Linked DNA regions of Homo sapiens: region 2 is linked to region 1. The links come from fine-mapping of genetic effects on gene expression. Tissue or cell type: whole blood. Region 1 holds a variant in brackets; the other region holds the start of a gene. All regions are shown on one strand. Distances are from middle to middle.

Region 1 (8,000 bases):
CCGGTGCCTCTGAACCGCTCCAGGAATTTCCTTTTGTGCCTTATTGGGGGCAGGGAAGAGGGCCTGCAGTTGGTTAGATTTTCAGTGGGGTCTGTGACCCCCCCATAGAGGTGGAGCCCCGCTGATCTAGGGTAGAGGACTGCACAGATCCCCTCTCTGGGTGGGTTTCAGAAGATGTATCAAAGCCTTAACATTTAACAAGAGTCAGGCTAGGTGGTTGCAGGACGCTGGGGTGGGGTCCTGAGGAGCAGCCTGCCTGCCCCCACCCCGCGGAGGAGGTTGTACTGCTGCTTCCTCTGGTGATGGAACCTTGGGGAGGGTCCCCACGCCTGGCCTGGCCCCCCTCACCGGCCCCCGCCCTCATCCCCCAGGAGGAGACACCCCTGTTTCTGGCCGCCCGGGAGGGCAGCTACGAGACCGCCAAGGTGCTGCTGGACCACTTTGCCAACCGGGACATCACGGATCATATGGACCGCCTGCCGCGCGACATCGCACAGGAGCGCATGCATCACGACATCGTGAGGCTGCTGGACGAGTACAACCTGGTGCGCAGCCCGCAGCTGCACGGAGCCCCGCTGGGGGGCACGCCCACCCTGTCGCCCCCGCTCTGCTCGCCCAACGGCTACCTGGGCAGCCTCAAGCCCGGCGTGCAGGGCAAGAAGGTCCGCAAGCCCAGCAGCAAAGGCCTGGCCTGTGGAAGCAAGGAGGCCAAGGACCTCAAGGCACGGAGGAAGAAGTCCCAGGACGGCAAGGGCTGCCTGCTGGACAGCTCCGGCATGCTCTCGCCCGTGGACTCCCTGGAGTCACCCCATGGCTACCTGTCAGACGTGGCCTCGCCGCCACTGCTGCCCTCCCCGTTCCAGCAGTCTCCGTCCGTGCCCCTCAACCACCTGCCTGGGATGCCCGACACCCACCTGGGCATCGGGCACCTGAACGTGGCGGCCAAGCCCGAGATGGCGGCGCTGGGTGGGGGCGGCCGGCTGGCCTTTGAGACTGGCCCACCTCGTCTCTCCCACCTGCCTGTGGCCTCTGGCACCAGCACCGTCCTGGGCTCCAGCAGCGGAGGGGCCCTGAATTTCACTGTGGGCGGGTCCACCAGTTTGAATGGTCAATGCGAGTGGCTGTCCCGGCTGCAGAGCGGCATGGTGCCGAACCAATACAACCCTCTGCGGGGGAGTGTGGCACCAGGCCCCCTGAGCACACAGGCCCCCTCCCTGCAGCATGGCATGGTAGGCCCGCTGCACAGTAGCCTTGCTGCCAGCGCCCTGTCCCAGATGATGAGCTACCAGGGCCTGCCCAGCACCCGGCTGGCCACCCAGCCTCACCTGGTGCAGACCCAGCAGGTGCAGCCACAAAACTTACAGATGCAGCAGCAGAACCTGCAGCCAGCAAACATCCAGCAGCAGCAAAGCCTGCAGCCGCCACCACCACCACCACAGCCGCACCTTGGCGTGAGCTCAGCAGCCAGCGGCCACCTGGGCCGGAGCTTCCTGAGTGGAGAGCCGAGCCAGGCAGACGTGCAGCCACTGGGCCCCAGCAGCCTGGCGGTGCACACTATTCTGCCCCAGGAGAGCCCCGCCCTGCCCACGTCGCTGCCATCCTCGCTGGTCCCACCCGTGACCGCAGCCCAGTTCCTGACGCCCCCCTCGCAGCACAGCTACTCCTCGCCTGTGGACAACACCCCCAGCCACCAGCTACAGGTGCCTGAGCACCCCTTCCTCACCCCGTCCCCTGAGTCCCCTGACCAGTGGTCCAGCTCGTCCCCGCATTCCAACGTCTCCGACTGGTCCGAGGGCGTCTCCAGCCCTCCCACCAGCATGCAGTCCCAGATCGCCCGCATTCCGGAGGCCTTCAAGTAAACGGCGCGCCCCACGAGACCCCGGCTTCCTTTCCCAAGCCTTCGGGCGTCTGTGTGCGCTCTGTGGATGCCAGGGCCGACCAGAGGAGCCTTTTTAAAACACATGTTTTTATACAAAATAAGAACGAGGATTTTAATTTTTTTTAGTATTTATTTATGTACTTTTATTTTACACAGAAACACTGCCTTTTTATTTATATGTACTGTTTTATCTGGCCCCAGGTAGAAACTTTTATCTATTCTGAGAAAACAAGCAAGTTCTGAGAGCCAGGGTTTTCCTACGTAGGATGAAAAGATTCTTCTGTGTTTATAAAATATAAACAAAGATTCATGATTTATAAATGCCATTTATTTATTGATTCCTTTTTTCAAAATCCAAAAAGAAATGATGTTGGAGAAGGGAAGTTGAACGAGCATAGTCCAAAAAGCTCCTGGGGCGTCCAGGCCGCGCCCTTTCCCCGACGCCCACCCAACCCCAAGCCAGCCCGGCCGCTCCACCAGCATCACCTGCCTGTTAGGAGAAGCTGCATCCAGAGGCAAACGGAGGCAAAGCTGGCTCACCTTCCGCACGCGGATTAATTTGCATCTGAAATAGGAAACAAGTGAAAGCATATGGGTTAGATGTTGCCATGTGTTTTAGATGGTTTCTTGCAAGCATGCTTGTGAAAATGTGTTCTCGGAGTGTGTATGCCAAGAGTGCACCCATGGTACCAATCATGAATCTTTGTTTCAGGTTCAGTATTATGTAGTTGTTCGTTGGTTATACAAGTTCTTGGTCCCTCCAGAACCACCCCGGCCCCCTGCCCGTTCTTGAAATGTAGGCATCATGCATGTCAAACATGAGATGTGTGGACTGTGGCACTTGCCTGGGTCACACACGGAGGCATCCTACCCTTTTCTGGGGAAAGACACTGCCTGGGCTGACCCCGGTGGCGGCCCCAGCACCTCAGCCTGCACAGTGTCCCCCAGGTTCCGAAGAAGATGCTCCAGCAACACAGCCTGGGCCCCAGCTCGCGGGACCCGACCCCCCGTGGGCTCCCGTGTTTTGTAGGAGACTTGCCAGAGCCGGGCACATTGAGCTGTGCAACGCCGTGGGCTGCGTCCTTTGGTCCTGTCCCCGCAGCCCTGGCAGGGGGCATGCGGTCGGGCAGGGGCTGGAGGGAGGCGGGGGCTGCCCTTGGGCCACCCCTCCTAGTTTGGGAGGAGCAGATTTTTGCAATACCAAGTATAGCCTATGGCAGAAAAAATGTCTGTAAATATGTTTTTAAAGGTGGATTTTGTTTAAAAAATCTTAATGAATGAGTCTGTTGTGTGTCATGCCAGTGAGGGACGTCAGACTTGGCTCAGCTCGGGGAGCCTTAGCCGCCCATGCACTGGGGACGCTCCGCTGCCGTGCCGCCTGCACTCCTCAGGGCAGCCTCCCCCGGCTCTACGGGGGCCGCGTGGTGCCATCCCCAGGGGGCATGACCAGATGCGTCCCAAGATGTTGATTTTTACTGTGTTTTATAAAATAGAGTGTAGTTTACAGAAAAAGACTTTAAAAGTGATCTACATGAGGAACTGTAGATGATGTATTTTTTTCATCTTTTTTGTTAACTGATTTGCAATAAAAATGATACTGATGGTGATCTGGCTTCCACTCCCCTCTGCTCTGGCCTTTGGCTCCCTTTCTGGGAGGGAGGCAGGGCTGCTATGCTCTGAGGGAGCCAGGAGTCGAGGGCCCCTTCTGCTGGGAGAGTGACGGTGAGGCTGCCTAGTCCTGGCCCACGGGGGTGTGGGGACCACGCTGCCTCCAGGGACTCCATGGTGTCTGCAGCCTGCCTGGTCCAGGCCCTTTGTAGGGAGATGGACACACAGCAGCAAGGGGGTTGCAGCCCTATGGGAGGTGGGGCTCGTGCCTGGGGTGACACGGCTCCCAGGACACCATGCGTGAGTCTGGCCCTCCTGGCAGCTCGGGGCTCTTCTCCTCTCAGCCTCGGAGGGATGAAGGTCCCACCCAGCCATCCTGGGGACAGCCCCTCAGGGAGCTCTGCAGCAGGCAGGGGGCTGCATAGGGAGGGCCTTGAGGCAGTGGCATGACCCCTCTACGGGCTGGAGACCACAGGGAGGACTCTGGCCCCTATAGGAGGGCAAAGGGAGCTGTCGAAGCCTATGAGCAGGGCAGCATGGGTCGTGGCAGAGTCTGGAAAGTTGTGTGATCCTAAGGAACTGGCTGAGCGAGGCAGAGGCGGCCTGGTCCTGGGGCCCTGCCCCTGAATAGAGCTGCCAGCCTCACACAAGGGTGGGCCCCTTCTCTCCCCACTGCCTGGGCCTCTGCCCAGCCCCAGACCTTCAGGGCAGGCCAGTGGCTTCAAACCAGAGCGGTGGGGAGTCTGAGATCCCTCTTTGGATTGCAAAGCACTGCCTGCCCTGGGCCCAGTCTCTCCAAGGAGGGATGTGAGCCCGAGGCCTCTACTATGGCTGGGGGCTGCGTCTGCCAGCCAGCGCTGGGCACCAGGACCAGGAGGGGCCACCGTGGAACTGCAGTGAGTGGCCTGACTCTTGTCTTCAAAGGGGGTGACCCAGCCGGAGTCCTGCCCATAAAACTCCCAGCACCCTGAAATTCCACTCCTGGGGGTCTGTCCGAAAGAAGTGAAAACAGGGACTCAAACAAACGCACGTGGCCACTTGCTGTCCC[G/A]GCATCACTCAGTACAGCCACAGACAGCCTGAGCGTCCACTGCCAACGACGGGTCAGCAAAACCGTCTGCTGTGACGGTGAACCTTAGTGTCAGCTTGGCCGGGCCATTTCGCCAAACGGAGTGTGTCTCTGAGGTGTTCTGGATGAGGTTCGCATTTGCATCCACAGCCCGGGTAAGGCAGTCCGCCCTCCCCAGTGTGGGTGGGCCCCGTGCGGTCCGCTGAGGCCTGGGGAGAACAATAGGCCGAGTGCCAGGGGTCCTCCCACCCAACCGCTTGCACTGGACATTGGTCTTTTCCTGCCTTCAGACTTGGACTGAAAACGTGGGCTCTTCCTGGGCCTGGAGCCCACCGGCCTTCGGACTCGCAACGCCATCAGGCCTCCTGCCTGCAACTGCAGACCCTGGGAACTGCAGGCCTCGAGGTCGTGTGGCCAATTCCCTGCAATAACCTCTCCAGTGGCACGTCTTATGGGCTCCGCTTGCCGGAAGAACCCTGACGAATGCGCACGAGGGAATATGATTCCACCGTAGAAAAGGAGGCGCTGACACCCACCATGCGGACAAGCCTTGGAAGCACGGTGCTCAGTGAAGGGTGCCGGCCGCAAAGGGCCGCAGGTGCAGTGACTCCATTTCTATGGGGTGCCTGTGGTCACCGAACCCATGGAGACAGAAAGTAGATTGATGGTTCCCAGAGCCGGGGGGAGGAGGAAAGGGGAGTGGCTGCTAAACGGCCCGGGGTTTTTTTTTGTTTTGTTTTGTTTTTATACTTTAAGTTTTAGTTTATTGTGGCACTGTTCACAATAGCAAAGACTTGGAACCAACCCAAATGTCCAACAATGATAGACTAGATTAAGAAAATGTGGCACATATATACCATGGAATACTATGCAGCCATAAAAAATGATGAGTTCATGTCCTTTGTAGGGACGTGGATGAAGACGGCCCGGGGTTTTACTTTGGAGTGACGCAAATGTTCTGGGCCCAGGGAGAGGTGGTGCGTGCACAGCCCTTCGAGTGCACTAAATGCCAATAACGCGGACACTTTTTTTTTTTTTTTTTGAGACGGAGTCTCGCTCTGTCACCCAGGCTGGAATGTGGTGGCGTGATCTTGGCTCACTGCAACCTCCGCCTCTGTGTTCAAGTGATTCTCCTGCCTCAGCCTCCAAAGTAACTGGGATTACAGGCCCCTACCACCACACCCGGCTAATTTTTTTGTATTTTTAGTAGAGATTGGGTTTCACCATGTTGGCCAGGCTGGTTTCAAACTCCTGATCTCAAGTGATCCACCCGCCTCGGCCTCTTAAAGTGCTGAGGTTACAGGCGTGAGCCACTGCACCTGGCCTAACTCGTACACTTTAAAGTGGTTAATTTTAGGTTCTGTGAGTCTCACCTCAATATGTTATTTTTTTTTTTTAATTAAAAAAAGTTTTTGAGACAGGGTCTTGCTCTGTCACCCAGGCTGGAGTGCAGTGGTGCCATGATAGCTTATTGCAGCCTCAACCTCCTGGGCCCAGGTGATCCTCCCACCTTGGTCTCTCTAGCAGCTGGGATTACAGGTGCACACCACCTCACCCACCCAATTTTTTTGTTATTTTTTGCAGAGATGGGGTCTCACTTTGTTGCCCAGGTTGGTCTCGAACTCCTGAGCTCATGCAGTCCTCTCCTCACCTTGGCCTCCCAGAGTGCTGGGATTACAGGTGTGGGCCACTGCGCCTGGCCACATATGCAACTTTAAATATTTCAGTAGCCACATTAAAAAGGTAAAAAGAAACAGGCAAAGTGTATATTAATACTACAGCTTAGTTAATCCAATATATCAAAAATATTATTTTAACACAACATAAAAAGTGAATGAGTTTTTTTTTGTTGTTTTTTGTTTTTTGAGACAGAGTCTCCCTCTGTCACCCAGGCTGGAGTGCAGTGGTGCGATCTCAGCTCACTGCAACTTCCGCCTCCCGGGTTCAAGCGATTCTCCTGCCTCAGCCTCCCGAGTAGCTGGGATTACAGGCACCTGCCACCACGCCCAGCTAATTTTTGTATTTTTAGTAGAGAGGGGGTTTCACCATGTTGGCCAGGCTGGTCTTGATCTCTTGACCTCGTGATCGGCCCACCTCGGCCTCCCAAAGTGCTGGGATTATAGGCGTAAGCCACCACGCCCGGCCGTGAATGAGATGTTTTATATTCTTTTTGTTTGTTTGTTTTTGGTACTGTGTCTTTGAAACCCAGGATGTACAGTACACTCACAGCACCCTAGATTGGGCCTGGCCACACTTTAAAAGGTGTTCAGTATCTCCAGGAGGCTCACGTCCAGATTCGGACTCTTCAGCAGGATGCCAAGGGGGCTCCAGACAGTTCCACCCAGCGCAGGAAAACACCAAGTGTATCTTCAGCCTGGTGACTCACTCCACGCCGCTGCCGGCGTGAACCCCGAGTGTGGCGCTGCGTCCCTCTGGATAGAGCAAAGGAGGGTCCCAAGAGCCCGGAGGCACCAACTCATCAGGGCCCACAAATCAGGCCCCCGGCAGGCAGGGCTGCCTCCATCCAAGAGGGAAGCACGGTGCCGTAGCCCCCGGGCTGCTCCAGGGATCGACAGGCCTGTGCTGCCTTCATCCCAAAAGTCTCACTTGCAAAGGGTGTCCGTGGGGCTCAACTGCGTGCTCAGCGGTGGACTGATTTCGTTCTGTGTGGCTCCTTATCTCATCGTGGACCCAAATCCACGAACCACACATGAGGAGCTCTGCTGGAGGGGGCAGCACTGGGCAGAGGCAGACAAGGGGGAGCGTCACGCGGCTGTTTCCCGTGGTGAGCATCCACCAGCAGCGGTTCCTGGTGGGACACCGACGTATTCGTCTGCAAAAGTAAAAGTGTTTCAAAACAAAACCGGGTCCAGCTTGGTCCCGGTGCGTTGAAAGTGCTGGCGTTGGCCAGGCGTGGTGGCTCACGCCTGTAATCCCAGCACTTTGGGAGGCTGAGGCGGGTGGATCACAAGGTCAGGAGATTGAGACCATCCTGGCTAACACGGTGAAACCCCGTCTCTACTAAAAAATACAAAAAATTAGCCGGGCGTGGTGGCAGGCGCCTGTAGTCCTAGCTACTTGGGAGGCTGAGGCAGGAGAATGGCGTGAACCTGGGAGGCGGAGCTTGCAGTGAGCAGAGATCATGCCTCTGCACTCCAGCCTGGGCGACAGAGCAAGACACTCTCACAAAAAAAAAAAAAAAAAAAAAAAAAAAAAAAAAAAGTGCTGGCGTTAGTGGAGGTCTCTCAGAGGGGGCGTTGCAGGGCCTCCCACGTTACTCAGGCTTTGCAGACGAAGACGCAGGGTCAGTGAGTGAGCGAGCTTTGGGAAAGGCTGTTCTTCAATCTGCATCTTGAAGGTGGCTGGGTGGCGCCTCAGTCGCCTGCCCCGACGTGACTCCCGATCTGGCTGCTTTGTGTCTTTGCTTTCCACCTGGCGGCTGCTGTC
Region 2 (8,000 bases), 55 kb after region 1:
TACTGGGTGGCAGTCCACAGGGCACTGTGAGGAGCCAGGCTGGGCCCTCCCCGGCTGCCATTTCTCCCTTTGTGTGGACACCAGGCCCACCGTGCTCAGCTCTGCGTGGACACCAGGCCCGCCGTGCTCCCGTGTGGAGCTCTGTCGACACGAGGCCCTCCGTGCTCCTGTATTCGCTTTGCCTTTTCCTAGGTTGTAGTTTGTAAAATGTGCTTGGCTTTCTACTTGTGTATCCCTCATTCAGCCCCCAGCTCTGCCACGTCTGCTATTCTGTTCTCCTGGAGCCCGTGGTCTCTGAGCCGAGCGTGATCTCTCCTCCCTTGGCCCGGGCACCCGGGTCTCCCCGGAGTGGGTCCCCCAGCTTTGGAATCCTATGTTGCTGCCTTTCTTAGTTACTCTGTTTGTCTTGGTGACACACATCCTCTGGTAGCTCTTGCTTTTTTTGTATGTTTTTTATTTCTTTTTCCTAATAGCTTCTTGACAGAAAGGTCCCAGGGTGACTTGGGAGATGCCTTTCACGTCTGGAGCTGCCTTTCTCCTCCGGCCTATCTGGCTGGCTGGTAGAATTCTTGGGCCAAAGTCACTTTCTTCAGAACTGCAAGTGGCCTTAGGTTTCCTGCTGCCTGTGGTTGCTGAGACCCCAGGGCCGTTCTGCCTGCAGCCCCTTTCAGGGTCCGTTTCCCTGGGACCTGGAGGGCTTCACCCTCAGCCCCCTTGGGCCTGACTGCATGCCCTTCAGCTGGGGAGTGTTCTAGAATGTTTCCTGTGGTTTCCCTCCCTCAGCCTCGTCTCTCCTCCCCTCTCCCTTGCCTGTGGAGTATAGACTGGCTGCCAGTGTAGGGGAGCTGAGCGGGGTCCAAGGTCTGGGGCCTCTTGGGATTCAGCCCCATTGTCACCCCAGCCTGCCCTCACAGCCTCACACACTCTTGACTGCAGGCTTCCTGGGCTGGGGCCCAGCACTCCTGCCCTGGTCCTCTACAAACGAGGCCGAGGCTCCCAGGACCACTGCCCCCAAGCTGGCCCCTGGCTGTCACCTGCTTTTCAGCATCCAGACTAGTCGATTTTGGTATTGTCCTGCTCCCTTTACCATGTGGTTAGTGCCTTTACAAAAATTCCTTGGCTTTCCCCTCCATGAGGCTTTGCGAGGGAGCAAGAGTGGATGCCTGCATTGGCCAGCTGTCTGCAACTGAGGTCCCCGCGTCCCATGCAGTAGGCCAGGCCTGGCCACCACTTGTCCCTGGACTCTGGACAGCCAGGCTGGCTCTGCAGAGCAGCTCCAGGTCTCATGGCCCTGATGAAACCACGGCACCTCCTGGCCACCCTCACAGTAAACATTGATGGTTAAGGATACAGTGCTTTCAAGGGAGCCCAGGACTTGGCACTGACTTGTCGGTTTCCAGAGGCTTTTGGAAACAAAAACGAAGCCTTCAGCTTGTCAGCGCCAATGGCCCGTGTGGTTCATTATGTGGACCAGCCCCTGCCACGCTGCAGCCGAGCACTGCTCACCCTGGGGGCAGGCATGCAGAGGTCATGCTGTTGATTTCATTCCAGGCCTGCGCCACCTCCGGGAGCTCAAGGCTAGGGAGGATTGGCCAGAGGAAGCACCTGGTGCTGAACTAGGCTTGCCCTGCTGTGAACTTGCACTTGGAGCCCTGACGCTGCTGTTCTCCCCGAAGAACCCGACCGACCTCCGCGATCTCCGTCCCGCCCCCAGGGAGACACAGCAGTGACTCAGAGCTGGTCGCACACTGTGCCTCCCTCCTCACCGCCCATCGTAATGAATTATTTTGAAAATTAATTCCACCATCCTTTCAGATTCTGGATGGAAAGACTGAATCTTTGACTCAGAATTGTTTGCCGAAAAGAATGATGTGACTTTCTTAGTCATTTAGGATGATTTAAGGATATAGTATTCCTGGTCATTTAAGAATGTTCATTCATTGAAGCCGGAGCTGTCTCTGCCACAGGAGAGCCACATGGTCGGTAGTAACCAGGGCCTCTCCAAGCCCAGCTGTGAGTCACTGCCCAGTGAGTCCCGCGCTTCCTTTAAGGTGCTGGGAGCAAAGAGAGGGTGACTGAGGCAGACCCCAACCCCTGCTCTGCACCATCTGGGCCCTCGCCGTGTTTGAACCTGGCTGAATGAGTGGAGGGCGCTGTGTTCTCAATCAGCGCCTCCGAGGAGCCGTGGGGTTCCTTCGGCATTAGTTCACGGTTTTTGAGAGAGGCCTTAGTTACTGCAGTGAATTTCTTTCCTGTTGCAAAGACGCTTCCAGCCTCACTTTACTTTCTGTGGCCTGATGAGGACCATGGGTGATTTTGTGTACCCAAAGCGCTGGGGACTGCCCACCGTGTGGCCCAGTCACTGGGAAGGAGCCCCAGAGAGCCGGCTGTCTGACATGATGGCTCAGGGTGGTCATCCAGGTTGAAAACTGACCGTGTGATGTTTGATTTGGGCTTCATTTCGTGTGTAGGAGCACGGTTAGACTCACTGTTAAGGAAGCTGGATGCACTTCTCTAAAAGGCTGCACTTTCCGTGAGCACTTTTCGTGGTACAATCCACATGACCCACTTTCTCCCCTGGGGGACGTTGGTTCAGAGGTTGGTAGCACTTGGGGAGAGTATCTTAACACAGTTTCTTGACAGCAGCTCTGGAACTTAGTATTTCTGCCCCGAGTTTTGCCACACTGAGACTTTGAGTAGCTCCTGGTGGACTCAACCCTGTTCAACTCAGAGACGGGCCTCCTCTCACTGATGCAAAGCTTTAAGGCTTCTCTGACTGTTCTGAAACTCTTCGTATTCTTGTCAAGTCTAAAGAGACTGAAGAAAAGATTTAAATACTAATAAAAATCAGTAGATAATTTCTGTAGGTTCTGCTGGAGGAATACAAACTGTTTGGTGTTTTAAATTTAAGTGTAGAAATTGTAGAATGTGGAATTAGCACAGATCCTTCCTGGCTTTCTGTTTCACTTGATCATTTAGCCCAGACCACCCAGGATGTTTTCCAAAATGTTCCACAGGCGTGTCCCGCTGGATCCATTTGTCCTTGTCACTTGGAGAAAGGCCAGTCCCTGTGACGGGGCAGCCCTCTCTGTCCCTCGGTCAGCTCGTGTGAATCCTGGGACCTCTTCCGGTCGGCTCTGCCCGCTGTTCTGGGGTCGACTGCCACGACTTTTGATTCAAGAAGCTTCCTCCAGGCGGGAGCGGCTATTTTTCCTAAATGAGAATTGTTACATTGCAAATTGTTGAATAAAATATTTTGCGCTCCTTCAAGCACCTTCACCTGTGGTTCCCTTTGGTTTGCTGGAAGCGAGTGAGTGCAGGTGTCCGCAGGCCTCGGCGCTGTCCTGGACCGCACCCAGGTCCTCTCCGGGGACCTGCACCTGCCTCGCTGGGACCTGCCGGACTGCGGGGCTGCCGGGTTGGGAGGGGCGTGGGAGACCCGTCCGGGTCCGGTGCGGCGCAGTCCTCCGGCCGCCAGGGGCCGCTGTGGGCGGGGCCGGGGCGCGGGGCGGGGACCGGGCGCGGCCCCGCGGCGGCGGTTGCTGGGTCCCGGCCGGGCTGACTCCGCTTCTGGGCGGCCGGGCCTCCGCGAGTACCGGGTCGACTTCGGAGTCTGCGAGCCCAGCCAGGGGTGCCCGCTTCCCACCCCTCTCCCCGAGCGGCGTCCCCGTCGGGGTCGAACCTCCCCCGCGACAGGCGCCCAGCCGCCTGTTCCCCCAGGCCTTGCCTGCGGACCGCCCTGGGAACGGCGTCTGGGAGCCCCGAGGGGCTGGCGGGACTCGGGGCCCGGGCCATGCGGCAGCCGCCCCCGCCCCTCCGCGACCATCCCCGGCCCAAGCGGGAGCCGCAGCGGCGTTTCTGCTCCTCGCTGCGCCGGCGACCCCGGACCCGGCACCCGTGACCCCTCGCGCTGCCTGCGGCCTCGCGCCGAGGCCTGCCCCGGGAGAGACCGTCCATGCCGTCCAAGGCGGAGAATCTGCGGCCCTCCGAGCCGGCCCCGCAGCCGCCGGAAGGGAGGACGCTCCAAGGACAGCTTCCCGGCGCTCCGCCGGCCCAGCGCGCGGGGTCCCCACCCGATGCTCCGGGCTCCGAGAGCCCCGCGCTTGCCTGCAGCACTCCGGCCACGCCCAGCGGCGAGGACCCGCCAGCCCGAGCAGCACCCATCGCCCCGCGGCCCCCCGCCAGGCCTCGACTGGAGCGAGCCCTGTCCCTGGACGACAAGGGCTGGAGGAGGAGGCGTTTTCGAGGCAGCCAGGAGGACCTGGAAGCCCGGAATGGGACCAGTCCCTCCAGGGGCTCAGTGCAGAGCGAGGGCCCCGGGGCCCCCGCCCACAGCTGCTCCCCGCCCTGCCTGAGCACCTCCTTGCAGGAAATCCCCAAGTCCCGCGGGGTCCTGAGCAGTGAGAGAGGGAGCCCGTCCTCGGGGGGTAACCCTCTCTCTGGGGTGGCCAGCAGCTCCCCGAACCTCCCGCACAGAGACGCCGCCGTGGCGGGGAGCTCGCCCAGGCTGCCCAGCCTGCTGCCCCCGCGCCCACCGCCTGCCCTGAGCCTGGACATCGCCTCCGACTCCCTGAGGACAGCAAACAAGGTCGACTCGGATCTTGCAGACTACAAGCTCCGCGCGCAGCCGCTCCTGGTGCGGGCCCACAGCAGCCTGGGCCCCGGCCGGCCGCGGAGCCCCCTGGCCTGCGACGACTGTTCCCTTCGCTCGGCCAAATCCTCCTTCAGCCTCCTGGCGCCCATCCGCAGCAAGGACGTCCGCAGCAGGTAGGGAGGGCCTGGCGGGTGCAGCGCCCGCGCCGCCTTCGTTGTAGTGTTCAGGCTGCTGGAACCTCGTGAGACCGTTCCCATCAGCAGCGTTTAAGATGCCTAACCGGAAAGAACGAAGCGGGTCTCCCGCAGCCACCCCATCTCCCAGCCCCACCCCACAGCAGCGCCCTTCCCAGAACTTTTCCTGTGCGTTTCAGAACCATTCGTGGGCGTGACGTTGTGTTAAGGTAGACAGGATGGCATCCTGCATACAATTACGTATCTGGCGCTTTTTCTTGTTTAGTCTTGGGAAATGTCGTCAATGTATACGATCCGCCCCTTTGGTTGTTTTTGTTTGTTACTCTCTCTGTCGCCCAGGCTGGAGTGCAGCGGCGCGATCCCGGCTCACTGCAACCTCTGCCTCCTGGGTTCAAGGGATCCTCCTGCCGCAGCCTCCTGAGAATCTGGGATTACAGGCGCCCGCCACCACACCCAGCTAAATTTTGTATTTTTAGTAGGGGCGGGGTTTCGCCGTGTTGGCGAGGCTGGTCTCGAACTCCTGGCCTCGGCCTCCCAAAGTGCTGGGATTCCCGGCGTGGGCCACTGCGCCCGGCCTGCCCCCTTTGTTTTTTTCTGCGGCAAGAGGCCCCAGATGTGTTGAGGCTACTTTCGTTTAGCCACTTGCTCATGAGGAACATTTTGGTGGGCTCCAGCTGTTGCTGGAAGGAACTGCAGCTGAACCCATGACCTCTCCCAAGCCTGGTCTTGTCTTGGGGTCTCAGTCTGGGGGCCTGTCCTGAGATGCTCCCACTATGACTTGGCAGAGTCACCTGCACCCTTCTTTTCCTCCCCCCACCCCACTGCCATGGTGCCCAAGTCTTGTCTGTCAGCCGCGGCGGGAGGCAGGACAGGTGTGAGAAGGGAGAGGTGTGAGGTGGTTTCTGTGTTGGTGTCCTGGGGCCGTTGTAACTCATGACCACAGACTGGGAGGCTTGCAACAGCAGAGCTGGACTCTCTCCCAGTTCTAGAGGCCAGAAGTCTAAAATCAAGGTGTGGCCACGCAGCCTCTCTCCAGAGGCTCAGGGGAGGGTCCTCCCGCTGCCTCCCGCTCCTGGGGCCCCACTTGTTCCTTGGCTTGTGGCCGCATGCTCCAGTCTCTGCCTCTGTCTTTATGTGGCCTCTTCCCTGTCTCTCTGTGTTCCCCTCTCTTTTTATAAGGACACCAGTCATTGAATTTACTGCCTACCCTAAATCCAGGGTGGTCTTATCTCGAGATCCTTAATTAAACACGTTTGCAAAGACCCCGTTTCCGAATAAGGTCCCATTCCAAGGTTCTGGGGCTCTGGGAGTGGACATGGCTTTGGGGATCACTGTTCAGCTCACCACAGTCCCCGAAGGTAGCCTCACTTCCCCGCGTCTGTGGTGCACCAGCAGGCAGGTGGGCTCAGGCCTGGAGTGAGGGCCCGTGCCTGGCGCCCCCACCATACTCTCCTCCTGTCATGGATGGAGCAGGTGCGATCACATCCAGGGCAAGACTGCTGCTTTTGTTAAAATAATTCACTGCAGGGCTTCTCGTAAAGAGTGAGATTTCTTAGTGCATCTAAAGCATCACATTTTAAAATTAGATCCGGTTGACGTAGATACACCTGTTAGAGAAAAGGACAGTCGTGTCTCAAATTTGGACCCTCAAGTCATTGTTTTCAAACAACCAGGAAACGAGGGTTGACGTGGATCCTTTAACCCAGTTCTGCTGCCTAACAGCTTCCCATTTCCAGACCTCCGGTCTGTTCTAGAATAGGAGTCGGCGCACTCTTTCTGTCAAGGGGGAGACACAGACAGTGGGGACCAAAGGGCGTCTGTGTGCCAGTGAGTCTATTAGGGACATACATTGGAACCTCGCTCTTTTTTCTTTCTCTGCCGTTCCACACAGTAAAACCCATTCTGAGTTTGCGGGCCGCGTGTGCACGGGCTGGGTCCGCCCTGTTTGAGAATGGCTGCTGGCTTTTGCCAGTGCCTTGGGGCTGCCAGGGCGGGTTAGGGGGCCTTTCCCCACCCGTTCCTTTTGCTCGGAGAGCTGGCCCAGGCTGTGGCAGCCAGCCTGAGCGTCCTCATGCAGAAGCTGTGCAGTGTCCTGGCCCTGGATGGGGGTCCGAGGCAGCTCTGCCCCTGCCCGTGTCTAGACACAGGAATGGCTGTGAGGGCCGCCCCTGGCCTGCTGTTACTAACCATGCTCTGGACAGAGCTGGGCAGACTGACCACGTGGCTGCTGGTGTGGACATGATGGGCGCTGCCGGCAAAGGGGCCGTGGGCCTCCAGCCTGGTGACCGAGGAGCCCCTGCTGGGCCCGGGATCACTTGACAGGGGTGCCCACAGGAACGCTCTCTGTCCCGAATGACCACTGTGTGAACACAGCTGTCCCGACCGGGATTGTCGACAGTTTTAGGGGTGAGGTAGCGAGGTTCCTCCCTGCTGACATGATTTAACGTGTCCAGTGAAGCTTGGTGAGCCGCAGCCAGGGTTGAAGAAGTTCTCGCGGGAGGTCACAGGAATCCGGCACTATGCTCTCGTGTCCCCTTGCGGAAGGGAACCATGTCAGAAGACGGCGTATCCAGAAGGAGCCGCACAAGTGTTACTTAGAGAGGGAGCGGGGAGGACGGCTGGCAAGCCTAGCCCACGGCGTTTCTGTATAGTCGGCGAGCTGAGAACGGGTTTTACATTTCCAAATGGTTGGAAAAAGTCAAAACCATTCTAATGATGTTTCATAGTACAAGAAAATTGTAAAATTCAGATTTCAGTGTCTGTAAATCAAGCGTCTCGGGCACACGGCTGCACCCCTTGTGTCCACATCCCCTGGTGGCTCTTGCACCACCGTAGCAGAGCCCACGGCGACAGACACTGGATGTCCCACGGAGCGGCAGGCGTGTGCGGTTGCCTCTTGACGGGTTACCAGCCCTCGTGGCAGAAGGTGCTGAGTGTGGGGAGGGGCAGGGACGTTGCTGTGCCACACGGTGTTTAACCATCTGTGTGCACCGCCGTATTAAAATCTGAAAGCATCAGCCTGGACAACGTGGCGAGACCCTGTTTCTACAAAAATAAAAAATAAATAAATAACTAGCCGGGCGTGGTGGCACTGCACCTGGAGTCCCAGCTACTCGGGAGGCTGAGGCAGGAGGATCACTTGAGCCCGGGAGGTAGAGGCTGCAGGGAGCTGTGTTAGTGCCACTGCACTCCAGCCTGGGCACGGAGTGAGA

The links. PIP is the estimated chance that this variant, and not a neighbour inherited with it, causes the effect.
Region 2: it holds the start of INPP5E, and the variant in region 1 is fine-mapped to the expression of INPP5E in whole blood (TOPMed, PIP above 0.99).

Annotation. Positions count from the first base shown.
Region 1 is chr9:136,489,930-136,497,929 of GRCh38, reverse strand. It overlaps NOTCH1 (notch receptor 1), which reads left to right. Exons shown (of 34, transcript NM_017617.5): 34 at 372-3,497. The coding sequence ends at 1,859. Among named protein-coding and RNA genes, the nearest start is that of C9orf163, 10 kb to the right of the region's middle. The variant G/A (reference allele first, on the strand shown) is at 4,536.
Region 2 is chr9:136,435,375-136,443,374 of GRCh38, reverse strand. It overlaps INPP5E (inositol polyphosphate-5-phosphatase E), which reads left to right and starts at 3,530. Exons shown (of 10, transcript NM_019892.6): 1 at 3,530-4,767. The coding sequence starts at 3,956. SEC16A (SEC16 homolog A, endoplasmic reticulum export factor) reads left to right here. Exons shown (of 32, transcript NM_014866.2): 32 at 1,552-3,270. The coding sequence ends at 1,620. RefSeq lists silencers at 3,372-3,571, 3,622-3,801, 3,862-4,351 and enhancers at 3,424-4,057, 4,058-4,692, 4,642-4,751, 4,693-5,326, 6,863-7,371.